Homo sapiens: one gene and its partners. The protein of the gene in region 3 purifies or fractionates together with the protein of the main gene of each other region. This does not show direct contact. Each region holds a gene or a part of one and is shown on either strand. Other genes may lie near its edges. The genes, in order: EXOC1, STX6, FAM9C, KIF15, MINDY3, STX5 and CEP170.

Region 1 (3,500 bases), on a different chromosome or scaffold from region 3:
TTATTGAAATAAGATATACAGAAGTATGACAGGCAGAAGAAACCACCCTCCTCTTCAGTGGCAAACCTATGTCCTTTATATATATATATGCAACTTATGAGAAAATATGAATTTATATCTTTGTCTAGATTACCTTCTCTAGTGCCATGCCTTGAGAAGTGTTCATGAAGCATTTTTTAACCTGGCCTAGCCCAATTCATACATACAAGTATAAAAAATGTAATGGATAGATGGCCGGTGTCTCTTGCTTGTAATCTCAGCACTTTGGGAGGCTGAGGTGGGCAGATCACCTGAGGTTGGGAGTTTGAGACCAGCATGACCAACATGGAGAAACCCCATCTCTACTAAAAATACAAAACTAGCAGGGCGTGGTGGCGCATGCCTGCAATCCCAGCTACTCGGGAGGCTGAGGCAGGAGAATCACTTGAACCCAGGAGGCGGAGGTTGCGGTGAGCCGAGATTGCACTGTTGCACTCCAGCCTGGGCAACAAGAACGAGACTCCATCTCAAAAAAAAAAAAAAAAAAAAAAAAAGTAACAGATAGTAAGAAAGTTGTCAAATTTTTTTCTATTAGGAGGAAAATGATAATTGCTCAGTTATAACAATTTATTCCTAAAATAAAATACAATTATTAAAGCTACTAAACTATTAAAATAAATTAAATAATTAAAATAATCAAATTAGTTTTCTTACTAGAATGTATTAAAAGAAGAACAATAACAATAAACCCAAATGATTGTTTCAATTGTTTCATTAAATCAATGGTCATTGACTAATAAACTGAGATGTCAGTGATTCGGTAGATTTTTTTTTTTTTTTTTTTGACACAGTCTTCACTCTTGTCACCCAGGCTGGAGAGCACTGGTGCAATCTTGGCTCACTGCAACCTCCACTTCACAGGTTCAAGCAATTCTCCTGCCTCAGCCTCCCGAGTAGTTGGAATTATAGGCATGTGCTACCACGCCCGGCTAATTTTTGTATTTTTGGTAGAGATGGGGTTTCGCCATGTTCTCCAGGCTGGTCTCGAACTCCTGACCTCAGGTGATCTGCCCACCTCGGCCTTAAAAAGTGCTGGCATTACAGGTGTGAGTCACTGCGTCTGGCCTCCAGTGGATCTCTTAAGCAACTGGTGCCACTGTGCCACTTCCTCCAGAACTTGCCAAGATTCACAGTGTGGAATGGAAACTAGCTGGCATAGTGCCACCCAACTAACTCTGTTCATGTAGATTGTTGCCATGCCCTGCTTCGAGGGACATAAACAACAGATTCCCCAACAGAAAGCTGGAAATCCCTCGATTTTAAATACATTTACCTATATTTTGCAATGACTAGGATGCTAAGGTATTTTTTTAAAAAAGAAAACTTACAATGCATTTGTCAAAGTTCCTTTTGACAGTCACCAAAACATTTCCCAATGTAGTACTTAGGAAAGAAGCAGGGTCCACATTTTGTGCAGTCCACACATGATGACTCATTTTGACTAACATATAAAGAGAGTTAAAGCTATCAATTTTGTCTCCTAATGCAATTAGGTTGTTCAGCTCTGGCTCAATGCAGCGAAATATTTTAATCATCATTTGGCGGATCATATCTTTCCTGTTCAGAAAACAGACAAGAAGTATAAAGTTATAACAAGCTTCAGGTGAATTCACCGTTAACTTTAATCCACTGGGTATATACAAAAGGACAAAAATACCATAATTAAATTTCAATTAAAAATGTCTAAATAGCCAGGCGTGGTGGCTCACGCCTGTAATCCCAGCACTTTGAGAGGCCAAGGTGTGCAGGTCACCTGAGGTCAGGAGTTCAAGACCAGCTTGGCCAACATGGTAAAACCCTGTCTCTACCAAAAGTACAAAAATTAGCCAGACGTGGTGGTGCATGTCTGTAATCCCAGCTACTTGGGAGGCTGAGTCAGGAGAATCGCTTGAACCCGGGAGGTGAAGTGCAGTTGCAGTGAGCTGAGATGGCGCCATTGCATTCCAGCCTGGGCAGCAGAGGGAGACTCCATCTCAGAAAACAACAACAACAAAAAACAAATAAAAATGTCTAAATATGATTATAGTAGTTTTTGATATAAAAATATTTTACTGATGTTGGGTTTTATCATTTGAATTAGTTTTAATTTGTAAAGCTGGGTCATGAAATGTGCTTTGTGATTTCTAAGAAATACACTACAATTCAAAGGCTTCCCCCTACCAGCAAACAACAGACTGACTTCATCTTCTGTAAGTCCTGGAGCAAGGAAGAGTTGAAGAGCCATAAAATAGGCCCTATTTTAAATCAGTAAAACGTTTGATAAGACAATGGACACACATGCTGGTACTGTGAGTGCTGTCAGGCTACTGAGAAACATCTAGACCCCTCAATGAGCAGCACTCCACATTTTAAAGTTTATTTTTTCCAAAATAAACAATGATAGTAACAAAGACATACTCAGATGAAACAGGCAGTGGTGTGCCACAATTATGTTGCCGTGATAATGTTCCTCCATCCAGGTCCTCTGCTTCAGCCTGCAAAAATTATTCAGGCACTTTACATAATAAAAGACCAACAATTTGACTAGTATTGATATAGCAAAAGCCTGCTCAGTCTTAAAATTCCTAGGAAAGAATACATTATGAAAAATATTTTTAAAGGTAGCATTATGATAAAGCTAGCTATATAATTTAGTATGCTATTTAAGAATGTTCATGAGATACTCTTCTTAGGTTTTATCCAAGAACTTTTGTGGGGTGAGAAGTTGTATTTGTGTGTGCACCTGAGGGGAAGTAGGGAGGTACAGGAAGCTGAACGCAAGGTGTGGGAGTGGGGGCAGCTTGACAACAACCACCACAAAAATAGAAAACGTCCAAACACAACTTTCAAAAGAGAATTTAAAAAATTAAGGAAATCTCATCAATTATTCTAATAGAACTTCAGCATTAAAAAAATGCTATAAAAAATTCTTACAGAGGCCAACAAATAAACAAATTTGCCACCATTACTACCATAACAATGAACACTCTAAACCATTTATCATAATCCATTTCTCATTTATTTTATGACTGCTTTTATAAGTTGGTTGTCTGTGGCATACAATTTTGAGATGATAATTTAAAAAACACTTTATTTGCACTGTTTTTAAGTTCTTCAAAATACTCAAGAAACTCTCTCATCTTATTCTCTTATATGTATGCTACCAGAAAGGCATGCTGAATAGGCACTATGATATCTACTTTACAGAAGAGGAAAGCTGGGGATCGAATAACTGGCTTAAGATCTCATGGCTAGTTAGTAACAAAGCCACAAGGAAGGCAAATCTGAGGCCTCATTTTCTTTTATTTATCATTATTGTTATTTGGTATACCAAAGTGTATACACTCTAACATCATTTTAAAACATTATATTTATCTTGATGACTACTAAAATGTTAAACTAGCCTTTTAAATAATGTTCTTTGCAAAGTAAACTCAGACATTCCTCCCCCCACTAATTTAGAGAATATTTAGGCTTGTAAT
Region 2 (3,500 bases), on a different chromosome or scaffold from region 3:
ACCAGTCCGGGCAACATGATGAAACCCTGTCTCTACAAAAAAAAAATATAAAAATTAGCTGGGCATGGTGGTGCACACCTGTTGTCTCAACTACATGGAAGACCAAGATGGGAGGCTGAGGTGGGAGGATCAGGTTGAGGCTGAGAGCTATGATCACGTCACTGTACCTTAAAAAAAAAAAAAAATTTCCGTGATTGAAGAAAAAGAAATCTGTTTTTAATCTTTCTTTTTTTGACACAAGGTCTCACTGTGTTGACCAGGCTGAAATGTAGTGGCATGATCTTGGCTGACTACAACCTCTGCCTCCCAAATAGCTGGGACTACAGGCGTGCACCACCACACCAGGCTAATTTTTTGTAGAGACAGGGTTCACCATGTTGCTCAGGCTGGTCTTGAACTCCTGAACTCAAGTAGTTTGCCTGCCTCAGCCTCTCAAAGTACTGGGATTACTGGCGTGAGCCACCATGCCCAGCCTGTCAGGCTTATTTCCGAGAGCAAAAATGAGACAGTAATCTGCTGGCTTTGGGCAGGGTACATTCAAATGGTGTCATCCTGAATGATTAGACCCTTGTCCATACCTCTAGTTTCTTCAAGCTAGTTATCTTTCTCACTTTTTATTTCTTAGTGTACTCTATTTCTTGACGAACAAAACAATTGCTATTGTAGAAACCATTTGGTTTTTTGATTGATTGGTAATCACTTCGCATTGTTGAAGAGTGACTCTTAGTGGGTTTGGATAGCGGCCTCTTCCGCCATCTGAATTGCTTCTGGAACTCTTGCAACCCAAGATACTGACATTTCCATATGTAACTACTTGACAGCCGTTCCAGAGTTATCCAGAGCAAACAAGCATCTATCAGAGTGTAAAAAATTGATCCAAGTGAACAAATCTTTAGTTCTAAGTTATTTAGAATAATACCCATTATTAAAGAATCTGAGAAAAAATATTAAGTACAATCTTGTGTCATTAAAATGTTTCATATTTTGAAACTATATGGCTAAGCCATTTGATTAGCATAACTAGATGTAAGAGAACCAGCTGTCTTTAACATATGTACTAGAAAGCAGCTTCCTTGAATAAAAAGACTTGGGATCATACCAGTGCTAACATACGGCTTTTTAAGAGTCATCTTAGGCAGGAACCTTAGTTTGTGTTTGCCAAAGTCTTTATATCATGTGATTTCCTTTTGAAATTATTTCAAATGGTAGATTATCACTGAACTTTATATATTCTTGTTACTTGTTTTATTCATTAGTTGCCTTTCTATATACATATACGTAAATTGTTTATAGATAAACCCACATTTTAATGAGGGAGAAACCTTTCTGGACCTCAGATGCCCCATCCACAGTGAGTGTTTGGATTGGACATTCTTAATTTCTAGCCAGTTCAAAATACTGTTCTGATGAGGAAGCCTTGTTGTTAGGTGACATATTTTTTGTAAGATAAGTAAATCCCCAATTATTTTGTATAAGCTTTTTTTTTTTTTTTTTTGTAGTAGTAGGTTTTTTGAAGGATACTCCTATAGACGTTAATATTTAAGTGGGGCCTTGCAGTGAAGCATATGTCCTTAACCTTAATCATTATATTTATTTCTGCAAGGTAGACTTAGGAAGTTTGCAAATTGAAATTTAGAGGTTCGTATATTAAAAATTAAGTTCATTGGTATAATGGAAAGAAGAATCCAAAGTTCATTTTCTAATATCTGAAAAGCTTTTTAAAGTACATTCTTAGAAAGAGGTTGATATGATTTAGCTGTTTCCCCACCCAAAATCTCATCTTGAATTGTAATCCCCATAATCCCCATGTGTCAAAGGAGAGACCAGGTGGAGGTAATTGAATCATGGGGGCAGTTTCCCACATGCTGTTCTCATGATAGTGAGTGAGTCTCATGATAGCTGATGGTTTTATAAGGGGCTCTTCCCACTTTGCTCTGTCACTCTTCCCTGCTGCCTTGTGAAGAAGTTGCCTTGCTTCTCCTTCTGCCATGATTGTAAGTTTCCTGAGGCTTCCCCAGCCATGCTGAACTGTGAGTCAATTAAACCTCTTTCTCTTATAAATTACCCAGTCTCGGGCAGTTCTTTATAGCAATGTGAGAACAGAGTAATGAGAGGTATTCCAAATCAAGTCAGTACTTCAAAATCTTACTGTCCTTTTAGAGTTGAGATCTAAACCATACTCAACTATGTGATCCACCTGAATATTTTAGGGTTTTAAATCATTCTTGTTTAAATTTATGACCCCTTTGGGGGAAGCTGTTAGTATTTACCAGTGGTAGGCTAACAGTACCTAACTGAGCTTTTGCTGATCTGATTGTAATAAATTCTAGTTGAAAGTCCTATAGAAGAGGAGGAAATAGCAATGGTGCTAACTCGATTAAAAATAAAATATACCTTGTATAATTCCACATTACCACATTTAGCTAAACAGTGTTTGTATGTAGAGATTTCTGGGTTCTGGGTGGAAGAGCTCGATAGAGAGGGAGCAGAGGGTTAGCAGATTTGGAAAATGAGATGAAATGAAGTTCAAATTAGGAATTTGTACAAATTTATGTTAGTTCTTCTGTTACTATTACTAGTGGGCTTTCATTTAATATTGCTCCAAAATTTTGATTGACTTTATCTTTCAAACAGTGTATTCTACTTATGCTTTCTCTTTTGTAGGCAGGGGAGTCAGTGATACTCTATGCATTTTGTGGTTTTTTTTTTCTTTATTTGCTTCAACCTGAAGAAGTAAATCGCCTGTTTCTTCTTGATTAATGTCCATTGGTTATGCCTTTAGTAAGCTTTCCTTGTTTAGAGTTTTGTGTATGTTTTTCCAAGCATCTTTTAAGTCTGTACAAATCCAGTTTTGCTGGCAGTTTTTAGTGAAGAACCAAAATACTCACATTTTTGTGTAAATAGCTTTCATATTTTTGAGGTAATCATTTTTACTCTTGTGGAGTCACCTATACATCAAAGATTCCACATGTGAAATTTTTGTGTTTTAGAAATATATCCTAGAAGTGACTTTGGTTTTACTTTAGGATCAAGAGGTTTTGCAGTATATGGCAGAATAATGGTGAATATAAGGGGTAAGGGAACCTGAGTTCTAGGCTAAGCTGTGACCTTAATAAATCTTAACCATGGTAAGTCATTCAACCTCCCTGGATCTCAGTTTTATCTATGAAATAATCCTCACTAACATTCTCTGACTTTAAAAGTTAGAACTATTACCCTCTCCATGAAAAAACCGAACCTGCTCCAATGTAAGAATTGTTTACAGTCAATTGTAAGTCAAGATGGAAATGGCTTTGGTTAATCAAAAAGGGTGAAGTATCCAGTGTGAGCACAGATGACCTTGAAATGTAAGAATTATGAGTGGGAAGCACTGGGGTTTATGATGTCTCATTCATTCAGCTTGGAAGACAGTGTGAAATGGGAACAGAAGCATAAATAACCAGGACATTTGTTGTTCCTTTGGCAGATGAACCATATTTTATTGGGACTTGTTGCTTGAC
Region 3 (3,252 bases):
ATTGTGTATTAAGTTATTTCTACCCTTTTGATGGTCTTATTAAATCAGATACTTTTTTGTGCTTTACATAATGAGTTGTGACAGTATTTCACGGAAACATGTCCTTTGAATTGTAGGACATTTTATAAATGTAGAAATTAAAGTCTGTGGCTGGGCACGGTTGCTCACACCTGTAATCCCAGCACTTTGGGAGGCCGAGGTGGGTGGATCACGAGGTCAGGAGATCAAGACCATCCTGGCTAACACGGTGAAACCCCGTCTCCACTAAAAATATAAAAATTAGCCGGGCGTGGTGGCGGGCGCCTGTAGTCCCAGCTACTCGGGAGGCTAAGGCAGGAGAATGGCGTGAACCCGGGAGGCGGAGGCTGCAGTGAGCCAAGATCGTGCCACAGCACTCCAGCCTGGGTGACAGAGCGAGACTCTGTCTCAAAAAAAAAAAAAAAGAAATTAAAGTCTGTGTTTGTAACCCTTTCTGCACACTTAAAAAATAGAAACTTTTAATTATTTGCTTTTTTTCATTATCTGTCAATTAAGTGATTTGCTGTTATACCAACTGAAATTGGAATACTAATACCTGAAAGGTTTTACATAAAGTAAGTAAATCTTGCTTTTTGAAATGATCTTTGCATTTTACATTTTAAATGTCCTTCTGATATTGCTGAACCATCAAGTCCCATATTGATTTTAATATATGCAAAGAAACTACTTTTCAACATGAACATTTAATGCATATTCATTTACTATCTAGCTGACATTAAAGAGCATCTTGCTGCAAAGAGAAAAAGGATTGAAAAGATTGCAAAAGCTTGCAGCGAAATAAAGAACAGAATTAAAAATGTTTTGAGAACAACACAACTAAAAAGGTATGATTGTTGGCTTTTTTGAATAATGATATTTATATCATTTCTTTGTATTCATTGGTGCAAATAATTTCCAGAACTATCCTGTACATATTGGTGTCTCTAGGGAACAACATATTTTACTTGATTGTTCCCTAAACAGGTAAGTTTCTTTAGTTTTATAACCTCAATTTAACAGAATTGAGAGATATTACCTAGAAGCCAATGAAGATGACCTCTTTTTGCCTTCCAGATAAAAAGTCTTCCTGTAAAATTAATGTTTATCCATTTCTAGAAATACGGTAGGTGAATATAAGATAAATGTCTTCAACGTTTAGTCTGTAGATTCTTAACAATATTCAATTATGTAGAAAGGGATAACCTTGTGTTGTAAATAAGTTATTTATTTTAGTTAAATTGTTTTCACTATTCCTTTTAGATCATTGTCGTGCCAAAGTGGAGAAATAGTTAAGTGAAGTATTTCTTTCGGGAAATCTTACGGGATGAATGGCTATGATATTCTTGCACCTCCTTATGAGAACGCATATGTTATTTAGTAAGAAGAAATGAAAAGTAAACTGCTCTTGGAGAAAAAGATTGTTTCTGGGAAATTTATAGTGCAGTAAACCCTCCTTTGTCTTCAGCAGGTAAAGAATGTAAGATAGCTGCTCTAGTAGTCAGTTAGGAAGGGATCCTTTCAGAATGACAGTAACTCATTTCACCTTTTCCCAAAAAGAAGATTTCAGCTGCTATTACTCCCTTGCTACTTTATAGTACAAACTATGTCAAGTCAGTTTTGGTTTGAATAGGATTAATTTTTCATCCCTCTATGACGTATGACCTTGTTACTTATTATGTGTTACAGGCAGAAACGTGATTATAGAATTTCTCTGAAGTTGCCGAATGTCCTTGAAGAGTTCATCACAGATGAGCAGAAAGATGAGGAAGGAGATGGAGAAAAGGAAGAACAAATTGTTGGTATCAGGCTTAGCTTTATGATTAACCTATTGTATCAATGTCTCAGGTAGTAATAGTTCATGCAGAAATCCAGCAAAGAAGGAAGAGAGCATGAGCCCAGAGAGGGTCGCCCATTAGTGGACTCATGGACTAGGGGAATATAATTGCCATGCAGCATTAGGGGTCCAACTGAAGTCAGCATCATAGCGATGAAGAAGTTAAAGTGAACTCAGTTGGCATATTTGTGCAAGAGCAGCTGTAGGGTTGGAATTTCCTGGGTTGGGGTGTAGCCGAGCATGTTGATAGAGGGAGAGTTGGACAGGGCATAGAGGCAGGGATGGGGTTATGATGACTGGCTGTGGAATTTCAGCTGGGGCTGAGTTACCTGAGCACATGGGGGTGGGGCATTGGGCAGTGAAAAGTGCTCCATTCAATAGGCGTCAGGTCCCTACAGACTCCTGAGCTGTAGTACTGAAGTGAGTGACCTACAGTGGCAGGAAGGTAGTGGCTGTATGTTGGGAAGATGGAGAAACAGATGAGTGCAGTGGTCAAGGGCTGCGACTCTGGAGCCCCACTGCTTGGGATCCAATTCCAGTTTGACCATTGCTAGTTCAGGAACCATGGGCATATTATTTATCTCTGTGCTAAAGTTACTTTATATACGAAAGGAGACATGGTGAGGGTACCTATTTCAGAGTTGTTTGGAGGATTAAAGGGTTCCTGTGTAACAGGTTTATTTAAATTTTTCAGGATGCGATCTGACCCATGGTTGCTGTTTATCATTGCTATTATTAATATTATGTAGATACTGCAGTCACTGGGAATGACAAAATTTAGGGGATGACTGTGAGTGCCACGTAGAGGAGAGGAGAACACTATTGTTGGAGATTAGGTCAAGGTGCAGAAAGGCAATCATTAATGGAAGGTTTATCTATGTACATATTGAAATGACCAAGATTTAACAGGTGTTTAAAATCTTAGTAAGAAAGAATGTTTCTTAGTTAATTTCTGTATAGATCTTACCTATCTGTGGTCAACAAATTATAGGAAGGGTCATCAAATACTCTTCATTTGAAATCAAGAATTAAGACGTATGTGTTGAATATGTATAAGAAAGAAAATTCTTTACTCCATGACTGATGAAAAAGGTTATTGTTTTAGCACATGAGTGGTGAACACAATTGTTTCAAATTGGTCATAAACGTTGTCTAAAAGAAAGTGTTCAGAAGTATTGATTTAAAGAGTATTTCTTTAATGCAGAATGTTTTATAAGTATTAAAATTTACCCAATTTTAATCACTTTTTTGTTTTGTGCCTCTAGAAAATATTTCAAGAGCAACAAAAGAGGTGGCAACAAGATGGGAAAGGAACTGAAAGAGATTGAGCCACCACACGAGCAATTCACAAAGGTCTGTTCTATTTGGTAACACAATACGTTCTTATAAAATACAACACA
Region 4 (2,481 bases), on a different chromosome or scaffold from region 3:
CCCCCTTTAGGGACAGGGTCTCACTCTGCTGCCCAGGCTAGAGTACGCTGGCACCATCATAGCTCACTGCAGCCTCCAACTCCTAGGCTCAAGCAATCTTCCTGCTCCAGCCTTTGGAGTATCTAGGACTACCAGCATGCACCACTGTGCTTGGCTAATGTTTTAAAAATTATCCGTAGAGATGGAGTCTTGCTATGTTGCCCAGGCTGGTCTCAAACTCATGGCCTCAAGCAATCCTCTTCTCCTTGGTCTCCCAAAATCCTGGGACTACAGGTGTGAACCACTGTGCCAGGCCTGCTTTTTATTTTATAATGCTCATGAAATGTAATGTTGACTGTTGAAATGATGTATTATTACACCATTCAAGGCCAGCTAATTTCTAGCTGTTGATTACTGAAATGATATAATACACAAAATTTAATACACCACTCAAAGCCAGCTAATTTCTAGCGGTTGATTGCTAAGATGATATAATACATAAAATTTAATACACAAAGGGCCAGCTAATTTCTAGGCAAGTTGTTTTTGGACTACATTCTGTGGATCTCAGAAGGACAGTCTGGGGAGAAGGGCACTGATGCTCTCCCAATTCATTGTTGGCTTTGTATTGGTTCCCCATTACTTTTAAAAGCATCTTCACAAATATATGGGTAACGTAACGTTTAAAATTGCTGTTGTAGGCTGGGATTGATAAAACAGTGCATGCCGTTTGCTGAAGTGTGCTTCACTTGCCCGCAGTGAAGTTTGGCCTGCTGTATGTTCCAGAGACAGCATATCATGAAGACTCTTGGTTACTAGACTATGAAATAAACTATACACCAAGTTAAATAGCTTTTACTCTTTTTGCTAGAAGACCTCAAATAGATATTAGTTCTAAAATAGCTGTAATTCAACCAACTAGCTGGATTCTCAAAAATCCTGTAAATAATCTGGGTTTCTGACTTAGCTTTACCACTAATTAGCTAGGAGCCGGACTCTGAATGGCTCATACACAGGTGAAAAGGCTGTTTTCCTATGTATACTCTGATTCTATGAAGCAAATGAATCAATGATTGGGTAACAAATCTTTCATAAATTGGGTGGTCTTTGTCAGCTGATCATTAAAAAGAATTTTTGATGGTAAATCACCATGTAATTTTTGACATATTTACTTGCATAAAGTTCAAATAACTGGAATACAGTACCCTATCAAAACTCCTTCATTGCCATTTACTTAACTATGTGAACAAGATTTCTCAGCATTTATATCTATAAAAGCAGAAAATACGAATAGAGTTGATGCTGAATCCTGTCTCATTTGAGAAGTACAACAGAAAAATGAGCTGACTGAAGAAAAAGCATTAGGTTAAAATACATTAAGAGATGCATTTCCACTAAAATTTTCCCTAAGTATAATAATTACTTATAAAAATTTCCAGTAAATTTAAGGCACACTGATTAATAATTGTAATGTGAACTCAATTGGTAATAAACATAACAAAGCCATATGATTAAAATAAATTTTTACAAATTACTTTCAATTTGTGTGTGTGTATGTATGTACATACATATATTTTATTGTTAAGTAGTATGATGGGGTTATCAATAAAAAAATTTTCCAGAAAATATATTAAATCAATATAAAATCCTGCAGGGTGTAGAAAGGAACTTCAATTACAAAGGAAAAAGGAAAAATGTAAAATTTTAGACTTGGAAATTTGTTCATGTATTTCTTAAACAGAAAGTAGCAAATTAGTTAAATACTTTTAAAAGAATGGCAAGAGCTTTATTTTCTTTTCTCTTTTTAAAAAAATTTATTTAAAAAAAATTTTAGAAATAGAGACAGGGTTTCACCATGTTGCCCAGACTGATCTCAAACTCCTAAACTCAAGCAATCCACCTGCCTCGGCCTCCCAAAGTGCTGGGATTACAGGCGTGAGCTACTGGGCCCAGCCAACAGCTTTATTTTCAAATGTCACTATATTGTATATCCCAGAATGTCTATTCTTTGTAACAATTTAAACTTACAATGAAAAATTTTAGATATAAAGTCAACTTCAAAAATATGCAAGAGGGTATATGATGTTTCAAAATCCTTTAAATCAGTATAATAAGCAAAAATGTTTGAAGATCTCTATCCCTAATAAGGAGTATCTACCCAGAAAAAGCCCAATAGCTCTCTAATGTTGTTTTGTTTGTGTTAATGCCAACCAGCTTACTTAGTTTGAATTTTACAGAAAATATAGTACACCTTGCTCATCAAAGAGTGAGGCCATTTATAAGGCTACATGAATTAATATGAAAACTTTATGAATAAATTAAACTCATGGCTTTAGAAAACATAAAGAGACCCAAGGGCTAGACCAGAAGAAATCAGAGTACTGATCTTTGGGTCTCAGAGGGCCTCAGGTTTTAAATCAGAGGAAACCAGAAGCAGAAGTGAAAAGGGACACCTGGTAGTTACATTGTTCTCATTGTCCATGAGGAAAAGCCCCATCGATT
Region 5 (2,834 bases), on a different chromosome or scaffold from region 3:
GACATGAGTACATGAAGTTCTTTGTGAAAAATAGGGCCGATTGTATTTAACTTAATAACTTGAATTATATTCTTTGTGTATAACTTTTCAGAGAAGGCAGTTTTGCTTTGGGGACTGAAAAGCCCGAGTTGTAGTTTCAATGTCAATTTATTTCATCAACACTAGAAACTAATATATTAACTAAAATAAAGATGCCAAAAAATGTATTTCACGTTACAATGTATCTTTAGCACTTTCTTAGGAATGAGTAGATTCATGACACAAGATTATCTGATCTAGTAATATATTCTATTCCTATATTTAATGTGTTTTAGAGGCAACTACCATTTAAGGATAATAAAGTTGTTTCTTTTGGCTCCTTAAATAGCTTATGGCTTTTATTTTGGAAGAACATAATTACACTCATGTGTATCAGCCAGTGAATGTGTAAAAATAATTTTATACACTTTGGAAGAAGACAGTCGTCTGTATCTGTTTCTTTTAAATTATACAGCATCAGAATTTCTCTTGGTACAAAAAAGAAATTAACCACCAAGGAGTGCCTTAATGTCCACAGTGAGCCCTTGGTAATGAGTTAGGGTTTTTGTTGATATGTCCAAAATACTTTTTAAGTATGTTTCATTGTAAATTAATCAGAATAAAATTTTTCTTGCTATTCACCTGCCAGTATATATTTCTGTGATCACTGCCACTGCATATACAGTATCTGGTTAGTTTGATCTTTCAACGTCTCTTTTACTTTTCTTTCTGTCCTGACATCCTTTTTAATTTTTTTCTCCATGATTTTTCATGCTGTACAGAATGCACTCATGAATTGCATTTCAGGAATATTTAATACCATAATAGCAAGTTTTGTTGACAAACATTCAAATTGGTTTCAGCTCTAGAAATTCAATACTTAAATTAGAAGGAGACACATGTTCCTCAGAACATAATAGCTATATTCCTTTTATAGCTCTCCGTTTCATTAGGCAGCATGAGCATCTGAGAACCTCAGTATTAAAGCAGTAGGACCTGTATAAATTATATGTAAATATGATAATTAAGCATTTCTTTCCGATGGTATAGATCCGTTGAAGAATGTTTTTTTTCTTAGAAACAATCTATGTGTTTTAGGATTCACATGATCTTGAATTTTTTAAAAATCACCTGGCCAGCTAGCAATTAAATATCGTTTACAAATTTACTTTCACATTAATCAGTAAGCAGATATTCCTTCTCATTTCTAGCAAAATAAAATTACATGTCAAGTTTCATCTGAAACTATGTAATACCTTATTTGCTAGCCTCTAAAAATTGTTTTCATTCCACATAAGAATTTGCTAAGACTGTTGCTTGACCTTGGTGGCTTTATTTTGTTCAACAGGTCATGTACGTAGAAGGGACTGCAGTTGTGATGGGTTTTGAAGATCCCATGCTACAGACAGATGACACTCCTATTAAACGCTGTCTGCAAACCAAATGGCCATACATTGAGTTACTCTGGACCACAGATCGCTCTCCTTCACTAAATTAATTTGTCTAAGTATTTATAAGGAAGATCTTAATAACAGATGTTGAAAGAAGGAGTCAAGACTGGCAATTGGCTGGATTAAGCTAAACACTGGTATCACTGATTAACTGTAAATAACAATTAAAAACACATTTTCAGTGTTTATGATATGTTTAAATTATTTGTCCTAAAGCTTTATGTTAAAGATTATCCTATTTTACCCCTTCGTGTGAAATTTACTAGCAAAATTAAGCTTTCATCAAAGTTCATCACTTTTGCATTCAGATACTTGGTCATTTACTTACCAAATTACAAACGCAATACTACAGCATTTGTATATTAAGTATCACAGTTACTATTGATAAACTACTTTTGGGTTTTATTTCATTGAGGCACTTTTTTTATTGTTTGAATGATTCCGGCTTGTAATATATCAGCCTCTACAATGAAATGCAGAAGAGTTCATTTTTCTAAGATCTGTTTTTCATTAGAAATATTGACAAATAACACATTGTCAACCTGGATCCTTTGACAATTTACTTAACTCTGGCATGTTCACAAAAAGTAGAAACTCTAAGAGACCATTACCATTTATTCACAGATGTATAGGGGATGTATTCTAAAAACTGACAGAAAAGAGAATCTGATAGTCAACACTGTTAACTTTTACTGTGTAATTGCCAAATACACTTTTCCAAATTTGTCCCAACAGCCCTGTAAGCCAGCTTTCTTCTATATTTATAAACACGATAAATGCATGAGAAGATCTGTTATTACATTAGTATATTACGTTATTTATTATGATCCTAGTTGATGGCCTAAATAAACACCTTTTTCTTTAACTGTACCCTTGCATTTTTTACATTGGTGGCTCAAAATAAACAAATACGTACTTCTAAATGTTTCTACCCAATAACCCTGAGAGCACAGAGTACTACAAATGGCTAAGTCATACAGGACCTCGAATAAGAGACCAGGCCTTATGCTAACCTAAGAGCTCTGCTAACTCAGCCAGCCAGAAGCATGAGAACCCACATGGCAGCTTTCTAGACCAGTGAGCAAAGATGCAGAAGCCCGTTTACTTGAGAGAGAGATCTGCTGTATTCTGATAGGTTTGTGGCCCAGCAATTTAAAATCACATAGCCATTAATACTTTTTTTCCTCCACGTGTAAAGCCACGTGTAAAGCAGATAATTATGTAGTATCCTCTTACACATTTCAGAACTGAACATTACCTTCAATAGTATAGTTCCTGTGTGAATTTCTGTTTGGGTTTTGTTTTCTTTCGTACACACACACAATTACAATATAATTAAGCATAGGGAAAGGCATGAGATTTTGT
Region 6 (3,500 bases), on a different chromosome or scaffold from region 3:
CTCTTTTACCAGGACATCAATAGCCTCAACAAACAAATTGCTCAGCTCCAGGATTTCGTGAGAGCCAAGGGCAGCCAGAGTGGCCGGCACCTGCAGACCCACTCCAACACCATTGTGGTCTCCTTGCAGGTGGGACCTGGGGAGGAAGGGAGGGAGGCAAAGAGGAAGAATGTGGAGCCTTCTTTGGTTGACCCTCTCTCCTTTTCTTCTAGTCGAAACTGGCTTCTATGTCCAATGACTTCAAATCGGTTTTAGAAGTGAGGACAGAGGTGAGAACAATCTGCGTAGGAGGGGTAGGAATATGGGAGTAAAGATCCAAGAGGGAAATGAAGAAGGGACAAGTTCTACAGGGTCATGGGGCCAATGGTGGGAGTCTCTTTAACATGCCTGCTTTCTAGTGGCTTCAGGTCCTTTGCGTTTTTCCCCAACCCCAGAACCTGAAGCAGCAGAGGAGCCGGAGAGAGCAGTTCTCCCGGGCACCTGTGTCAGCCCTGCCCCTTGCCCCTAACCACCTGGGTAAGTCACAGGTAAAACGGGGAGCCCTGGGAGGTAAGGTTACTTACTCTGGTTGTGATGGCATCCTCTAAAGGCACGGGTTGGGTAGGAGAGTGGAAGGTCAAGGAATTTTCTAGGCTTTATCTCTCAGAGGCCAAACCAGATGGTTGAGATTCGTGATCCACATTTAGACTCCCACATTCTCACTGTTGGGGTGAATTCAGTTATATTCAGAATAATGATAATTTCTAATTTTTTTTCGTACACTTTATTCACATTCTCTCATTTAATTTTCACAACCACCCTTTGAGAAAGCAACTATTATTATCCCCCATTTTACAGGTGAGGAAACTGAGGCTCAGAGAGGTTAAATGACCTGTCCAGGGTCACAAGGCTAGTAAGTGCTAGAGCTGGGATTCAAACCCAGAGCATGTGGGCTTTGAACCTGCTTTTAACTGTTAAGGTGTGCCACATCCTGTTTTCTCCCCCAGGCGGTGGTGCTGTGGTTCTGGGGGCAGAGTCCCATGCCTCCAAGGATGTCGCCATCGACATGATGGACTCTCGGACCAGCCAGCAGCTGCAGCTCATTGACGAGCAGGTACCCAGGCTCTGAACTAGGTAGAATCAGCTTCTCCATTATCCTCTGTGGTTCCCGAGAGAGTGTTTGGAGTGTGCCATGGGCAGAATGGCAAGCTGGGAGGGTTGTAAAAATGCAGGTCTGACCCTGAAGAAGCTGTTGGTGCTCATGTGCTCTCTCCCTCTCCTGAAGGATTCCTACATCCAGAGTCGGGCAGACACCATGCAGAACATTGAGTCGACAATTGTTGAGTTGGGCTCCATCTTTCAGCAGTTGGCACACATGGTTAAGGAACAGGAGGAAACCATTCAGAGGTGAGATACACTCTCTCGCCCCAAACAGAGGAGCTTTCTCTTCCCCGTGGATTGGCATCTTAAAGTCCCCAGGGACTGCTTGATGCCTTTTGGAAGATAGAGTGAATTCTGCCCACCCATGGGACCCAGTTCACCTGCTTCCATCCACCCAACAAGTTTTTATTGAGCACCTGTTCATGTGAGGCACTGTTCCAGGTGCGGGAGATACAGTGGCAAGTAGAACAGTAAAGTCTGTCTGGAGCTGCTTTGTAGCATGTGTAAGTGTATGGAATTTGATAGGGCAGATGAGGACAGCTGTGGAAAAGAACTGACAAGGCTGGCACAGTGACTCACACCTGTAATCCCATAGGCAGCACTTTGGGAGGCCGAGCAATGCAGATCGCTTGAGTTCAGGAATTCAAGACCAGTTTGGGCAACAAAGCAAGACCCTGTCTCTACAAAAAAATACAAAAACTAGCTGGGCATGGTGGCATGGGCCTGTAGTCCCAGCTACTCGAGAGGCTGAGGTGGGAGGATGGCTTGAGCCTGGGAGGCAGAGGTTGCAGTGAGCCAAGATCGTGCCACTGCACTCCAGCCTGGGTGACAGAGCCAGATTCTGTGTCAAAAAAATAAAAATAAAAAATTGACCAACAAAATTTCAGGGAGTAATAAAGGCTGTATACAGAGTTAAAATAGGATGATGTGTTAAGAAAGTAATGGATGGGTACGGTGGCTTACACCTGTAATTCCAGCACTTTGGGAGGCCCACACAGTCAGTTGAACTCAGGAGTTCAAGACCAGCCTGGGCAACATGGTGAAACCCCATCTCTACAAAAATAAAAAAATTAGCTGGACATGGTTGCGTGTGCCTGTGGTTCCAGCTACTCGGGAGGCTGAGGCGGGAGGATGACTTAAGCATGGGAGGTTGAGGCTGCAGTGAGCCATGATGGAACCACTGCGCTCCAGTCTGAGTGACAGAGCAAGACCCCATCTCAAAAAAAAAAAAGAAAGTGACTAAGTAGGTATATCAGATTGTGTGGTAGGGAATGCTGCTCTGAAGACATGACATTTAAGCAGAGACTTGAATGACAAGAGGGATCCAACCAGGCAAAGAACAGAGAGTGTTCTAGGCCGAGGAGACAGCTAGAGCAAAGCCTTGTGATGGGACAGTCTCACCATAGCAAGAATCAAGAAGGCCTGCGTGGCTAGAAAGTAATGAACAGGGATAGAGAAGTACAGGGTGTACTGGAGGGATGTAGGCAGAGGCCCAACAATGGGCTGGCCTCTCTGTTCCTCTGGTGCCTCCTGCTACTACAAGAGTTTTTATCTGCTCCTCCTCTGTGGTGCTTAGCATTCAGTCAGTCAGTTATGGGAATATAGCAGTGGACAAAAGAGACAAAATCCTTGCCCTTGTGGAACGTGTATCCTAATAGGGAGATAGATGTGAAAAAGTCATAATAAATAGTATGTTAAAAAAAAAAAAGGTCGTAAATGCCAAAAAAAAAAAAAAAGATAGTCAACACAGGATAAACTAATCAGGAGTGCCAGGTTTGGAGGGAGGTAGGCCCTATTAAGAAGGTGGCATCACACTTGGGAGAAGGTGAGGAAATTAGCTACATAGACCCTGGCAAAGGCCCGCAGGTGACAATATGTTTGATGAGTTAAAGGACAGCAGAGACTACTGCAGCTGGGATCAATGAGGAAGAGAGTTGTACAAGGTGTGGTCAGAGGGGAACTGTGAGACCTCTTGGGACCATTGGTAGGCTTTAGCTTTTACTCTGAGTGACATAGGGAGCCATTGCAGGGGTTAGTTTTTCTGTGTTTGAGACAGAGCCTTGCTGTGTCGCCCAGGCTGGAGTGCAGTGGCATGATCTTGGCTCACTGCAACCTCCACCTCCTAGGTTCAAGTGATTCTCATGCCTCAGTCTCCCGAGTACCTGGGACCACAGGTGTGCACCGCCATGCCCGGCTACTTTTTGTATTTTTAGTAGAGACAGAGTTTTGCCACATTGGCCAGGCTGGTCTTGGACTCCTGGCCTCCAGTAACCTGTCCACCTTGGCCTCCCAAAGTGCCGGGATTACAGGTGTGAGCCATCACAACTGGCCAAATACATTTAACTTTATTTATTTATGCA
Region 7 (3,500 bases), on a different chromosome or scaffold from region 3:
TGCCTGACTCCTGAGTCCACGCTCTTAACCATAAGAAGTTTTAATATTTCAGCCATCATTACTCTTGTAAACACAATCACTCTAAAAGGATATACTTCATAGGGTACAAAGATTTAAACAAATACTCCAAAATCAAATAGCCATAAAAATTGATCCCTCCTAGCTCAGCATAATAAAATAAATTTCAAATGTGAAGCATCCAGCAATACTTTCATCTATATGAATGTAACTGAATTCTCAGCTTGTGTACTCTTTCTGCTAGATGACCAAAAGCCGTCTCATGATCTTGGGGTTCTTTTTGAGTAATAATTCAGTGATTTATGTCTTGTGTCAAATTCCTTAAAGTGCCCTGTCAGATACAGCTGATTAGTAATAGCCTTAAGAGACTCTCACTTGCTTTCTTATGTTAGTATGAGGATATTACTGTTTCAGATTTATCATTTGCAGCTTTTTAAAATATAGGATGAGGAAAATAGTTTACTGTCTTGTAATAATTTATGAAGCCAGCAGAAATTGTAGAATCAGATTTGAAATGTATATCAAGTGTTCTTTAATGTGGTCATTTTGAAATTAAGGTATTTTTAAAAACTTAAACTTTTTTTTTAAGTTTCAAATTGTGGAATATACGTGATTAGTTTAATAATTTATCCTGTAGCATACTCTTAGTGAAAGCAAAAAGTGATTTGCTTCTTCGTTATTAATTTTTAGAGTTGCATTCCAGAAAGGATAATAGAGTGTTTGCTACCTAGTAATTTTTAACGTTCCTCTCTGTGGGTTCATATATATCCAGAAACTCCCGAAGACTTGCCATATAGCTTAAAAAGCCCTGGTTTAAGCAAATACTTACTTTAGAGCAATTTCGTTCTCCAGAAATTGTGTGACTATTTTTAATCGTATTAAGACGTAAAGTTTGTCCTCAATTTATTTACAGCTATGCTTTTCTACCTCCTAACTTGGTCTCAACAATTAATTTAGGTTATAATTAAAGGCCTTTAACTGTTGCACACATTTTGAAATGGCATGTGCAACTGGGAATCATAGATTTTTGGCTCTCTCATGTTGATTTTTAATCCAGCGAAACTAAATTTGGAAATTTTCAAGTCGTAGCTCCTTTTAAGCAAAAGGAGCTTCCCAGTCTTCTTAATTTGACATGCTTGAACAGACTAGGTTAGATGGATGTCTTAAGCAGAATGAGCTGTTATAATTATAGTCCTTGTCATCTCAAATAAGTTTAATATTTCATTGAATTTAGTACAGAAGAATGAAAAGAACATTTATTCTGGATGAAGTATAAGTATCCCTTATAACATATTGTGTTAAGGTAACACAGTCATAAAATACCTTAAGAACATAAGCAGATTATCACCAATTGCTTTTCTGATTGAGATATATGGAATTAATTATGGCATAATCAATCATTAAATAATTTTTTAAAATCTAGTAATTGAGATTAATAATATAATATTAGTCTAAACAAGTATTTACTCTATTATTTAGTTTCATTTGGTATAACAAAATGAGTTTTGAAGATAGATGAATGTTAAATTTCTAAATTCCAGAATATGTTCTGTTAGTGTTCTGAGGGAGGAAAGGTGTTTTATTTTTCTGTGTTGATTAGAAGACCCCTTATAGTTTTCTATTAGGTACTTCTCAAGTGTAGTTGGACCACACTTCATCTGTTTTTATCATCTTTAGGGAAATGAATCCTTCCACATAATGAATTTTCCAGATGATTGAACTTTACTTTTACAGTTGATAGTTTTTTTGAAGTTTAACCATTTCCTAAGTTTCTATTAAATTAATTACCCATATTACCACCTTCTTAAGCAGAGAAGTTTCAGTATAATTTAAAACTTTTTCTTATGACTCAAAATCATCAATCATCAATATCAGTATTACTATTATATATATCAATAGCAATAGCAATATTGATATAATCAATAATCAAATATATTAGTAATATAATAATACTGATACTGCCTTACAGTAATGTCCTCAGGAGACTGTAGTATATAAGACTGTTTGCCCTATATACTGAATGGTACTGGACTATCATGTTTTTGGGGCCATTTGTCTGCTCTTGTTTTTCATCTTGTCTCTACCACTTGGTGCAATTTGTCTGTCCTTAATCCTCACTTTTGTACCCTGCCCAAGGTTTGCTACATGTGATCTGAGTAAATAGTAAAAACCTCTCGGTGAAGATCTTAACTGTTAGTAATGTTTATGAATATTCAAGGATAGGCATTGTCATATCTGTCTTGGGTTTTTTAGAGTTGGGTTTTGGTATTAGCTTTTTGTCTTCCTGATTCTCAGCTGTTTTTGAAGGTGGAGGGAGAAGCATTTATTTGTGTACCTGCTTTGTTCTGGGTAACTTACATGATCTCACTTAATACTCATCTCACTAAATCTTCACAACAATCTTATGGGAAGATACTGTTTTCTCACTTTATGATGAGGAAAATGAGGACTACAGACTGATTAGGGATAAGATTTATCTGATTTCAGATCTTGTCTGGGCTTTGCATGAAACCAGGCTGCCTGGTTATGATCATCAGATCATAGTCTGCTGCCTTTCCACTCTATTGTGCTACTTGACCTGGTTAGGTACTTGATTTCTAGATGAATTAGTTATTAACTTGTATAAGTCTCAAGTTTCTAGCTTTGAGTGAATGCGAGTTTGAAGTAGTACTAACATGGGAATGGTGACCTTCAAAACAGGTGACCTTGATAAGTGCTATATCCCTGGCCAGCTTTTTTGTGTTGCTTCATAGCTGAGCCACATCAGTTTTATTTAGCTCTCTGTATAGTGGATCAGTTTTATTTGGCTCTCTGTGTAGTGGTATTAGAAACTACCATCTTGACGTTGTTCTGTCACCTGAAGGATGAGCAAAGCAAAAACAAACTATATGTATATATCTATATGGGGGGAGGGAGAGAGGACAGGTTTATGAACCAGTTGTACTGTATGGACTTGATCAAGTACAGTACATTGTGCATAGTAAAAAAAAATCAATGTCTGAAAAAATAGAAAAATAACATTAATGAACTATTAATATATGAGAAGCAGTTAATACATTTTATTCTAATGGAAATTTTAACTAACATGACTTCAGAGTAAACACTCACAAGTCCAGCTGAACATTTTATTTTTAAGAAAAAGACAAATTAACTCTTTAATCAAACATTTTTTTAAACTTAGGTCATGTCATATAAATGTATGATTATTTCTCTGATAATGTAGAGTTTTTCCAATACTTTTCTTTCATGTTCAGTGATAGGAAAGCTGAGTAGATTTTAAAAGGGATAATTTTTCACAGTGAAAATTACAATATATTCTTTCATATTATATGTTCTCTTTGCCTTGTGTTTAGATTTTTTTGACAATTTATTATTATTATATTTATTGTGGAAATGGAGCTTGTTGTCTTCCGTGCCCTATCCCACACATTTGATTATGAAAGAGAGATGTTACTATATCATTCTTCTGTAACCTAAAAGCA

What was found.
Region 1: the proteins of FAM9C (region 3) and EXOC1 purify together in Homo sapiens (co-immunoprecipitation; 2 studies listed by BioGRID and IntAct, with this or other methods). This does not show direct contact.
Region 2: the proteins of FAM9C (region 3) and STX6 purify together in Homo sapiens (affinity purification with mass spectrometry; one large-scale study listed by BioGRID and IntAct). This does not show direct contact.
Region 4: the proteins of FAM9C (region 3) and KIF15 purify together in Homo sapiens (affinity purification with mass spectrometry; one large-scale study listed by BioGRID and IntAct). This does not show direct contact.
Region 5: the proteins of FAM9C (region 3) and MINDY3 purify together in Homo sapiens (affinity purification with mass spectrometry; one large-scale study listed by BioGRID and IntAct). This does not show direct contact.
Region 6: the proteins of FAM9C (region 3) and STX5 purify together in Homo sapiens (affinity purification with mass spectrometry; one large-scale study listed by BioGRID and IntAct). This does not show direct contact.
Region 7: the proteins of FAM9C (region 3) and CEP170 purify together in Homo sapiens (affinity purification with mass spectrometry; one large-scale study listed by BioGRID and IntAct). This does not show direct contact.

What each region holds. Positions count from the first base shown.
Region 1 is NC_000004.12:55,891,648-55,895,147, reverse strand, and holds part of EXOC1 (exocyst complex component 1), read right to left. Parts: intron 2,604-3,500; coding exon of another isoform or gene 2,595-2,603; exon of another isoform or gene 2,514-2,594; coding exon 2,437-2,513; exon of another isoform or gene 2,436-2,436; intron 1,597-2,435; coding exon 1,368-1,596; intron 1-1,367.
Region 2 is NC_000001.11:180,998,871-181,002,370, reverse strand, and holds part of STX6 (syntaxin-6), read left to right. Parts: intron 1-3,500. UniProt on the Homo sapiens protein: SNARE promoting movement of transport vesicles to target membranes. Targets endosomes to the trans-Golgi network, and may therefore function in retrograde trafficking.
Region 3 is NC_000023.11:13,038,369-13,041,620, reverse strand, and holds part of FAM9C (protein FAM9C), read left to right. Parts: intron 1-748; coding exon 749-863; intron 864-1,704; coding exon 1,705-1,813; intron 1,814-3,117; coding exon 3,118-3,180; 3' UTR 3,181-3,205; exon of another isoform or gene 3,206-3,252.
Region 4 is NC_000003.12:44,848,794-44,851,274, reverse strand, and holds part of KIF15 (kinesin-like protein KIF15), read right to left. Parts: intron 1-2,481. UniProt on the Homo sapiens protein: Plus-end directed kinesin-like motor enzyme involved in mitotic spindle assembly.
Region 5 is NC_000010.11:15,777,674-15,780,507, reverse strand, and holds the end of MINDY3 (ubiquitin carboxyl-terminal hydrolase MINDY-3), read left to right. Parts: exon of another isoform or gene 1-659; intron 660-1,366; coding exon 1,367-1,516; 3' UTR 1,517-2,334; downstream 2,335-2,834. UniProt on the Homo sapiens protein: Hydrolase that can remove 'Lys-48'-linked conjugated ubiquitin from proteins.
Region 6 is NC_000011.10:62,822,052-62,825,551, reverse strand, and holds part of STX5 (syntaxin-5), read left to right. Parts: intron 1-12; coding exon 13-129; intron 130-212; coding exon 213-269; intron 270-434; coding exon 435-516; intron 517-986; coding exon 987-1,093; intron 1,094-1,264; coding exon 1,265-1,386; intron 1,387-3,500. UniProt on the Homo sapiens protein: Mediates endoplasmic reticulum to Golgi transport.
Region 7 is NC_000001.11:243,192,782-243,196,281, reverse strand, and holds part of CEP170 (centrosomal protein of 170 kDa), read left to right. Parts: intron 1-3,500.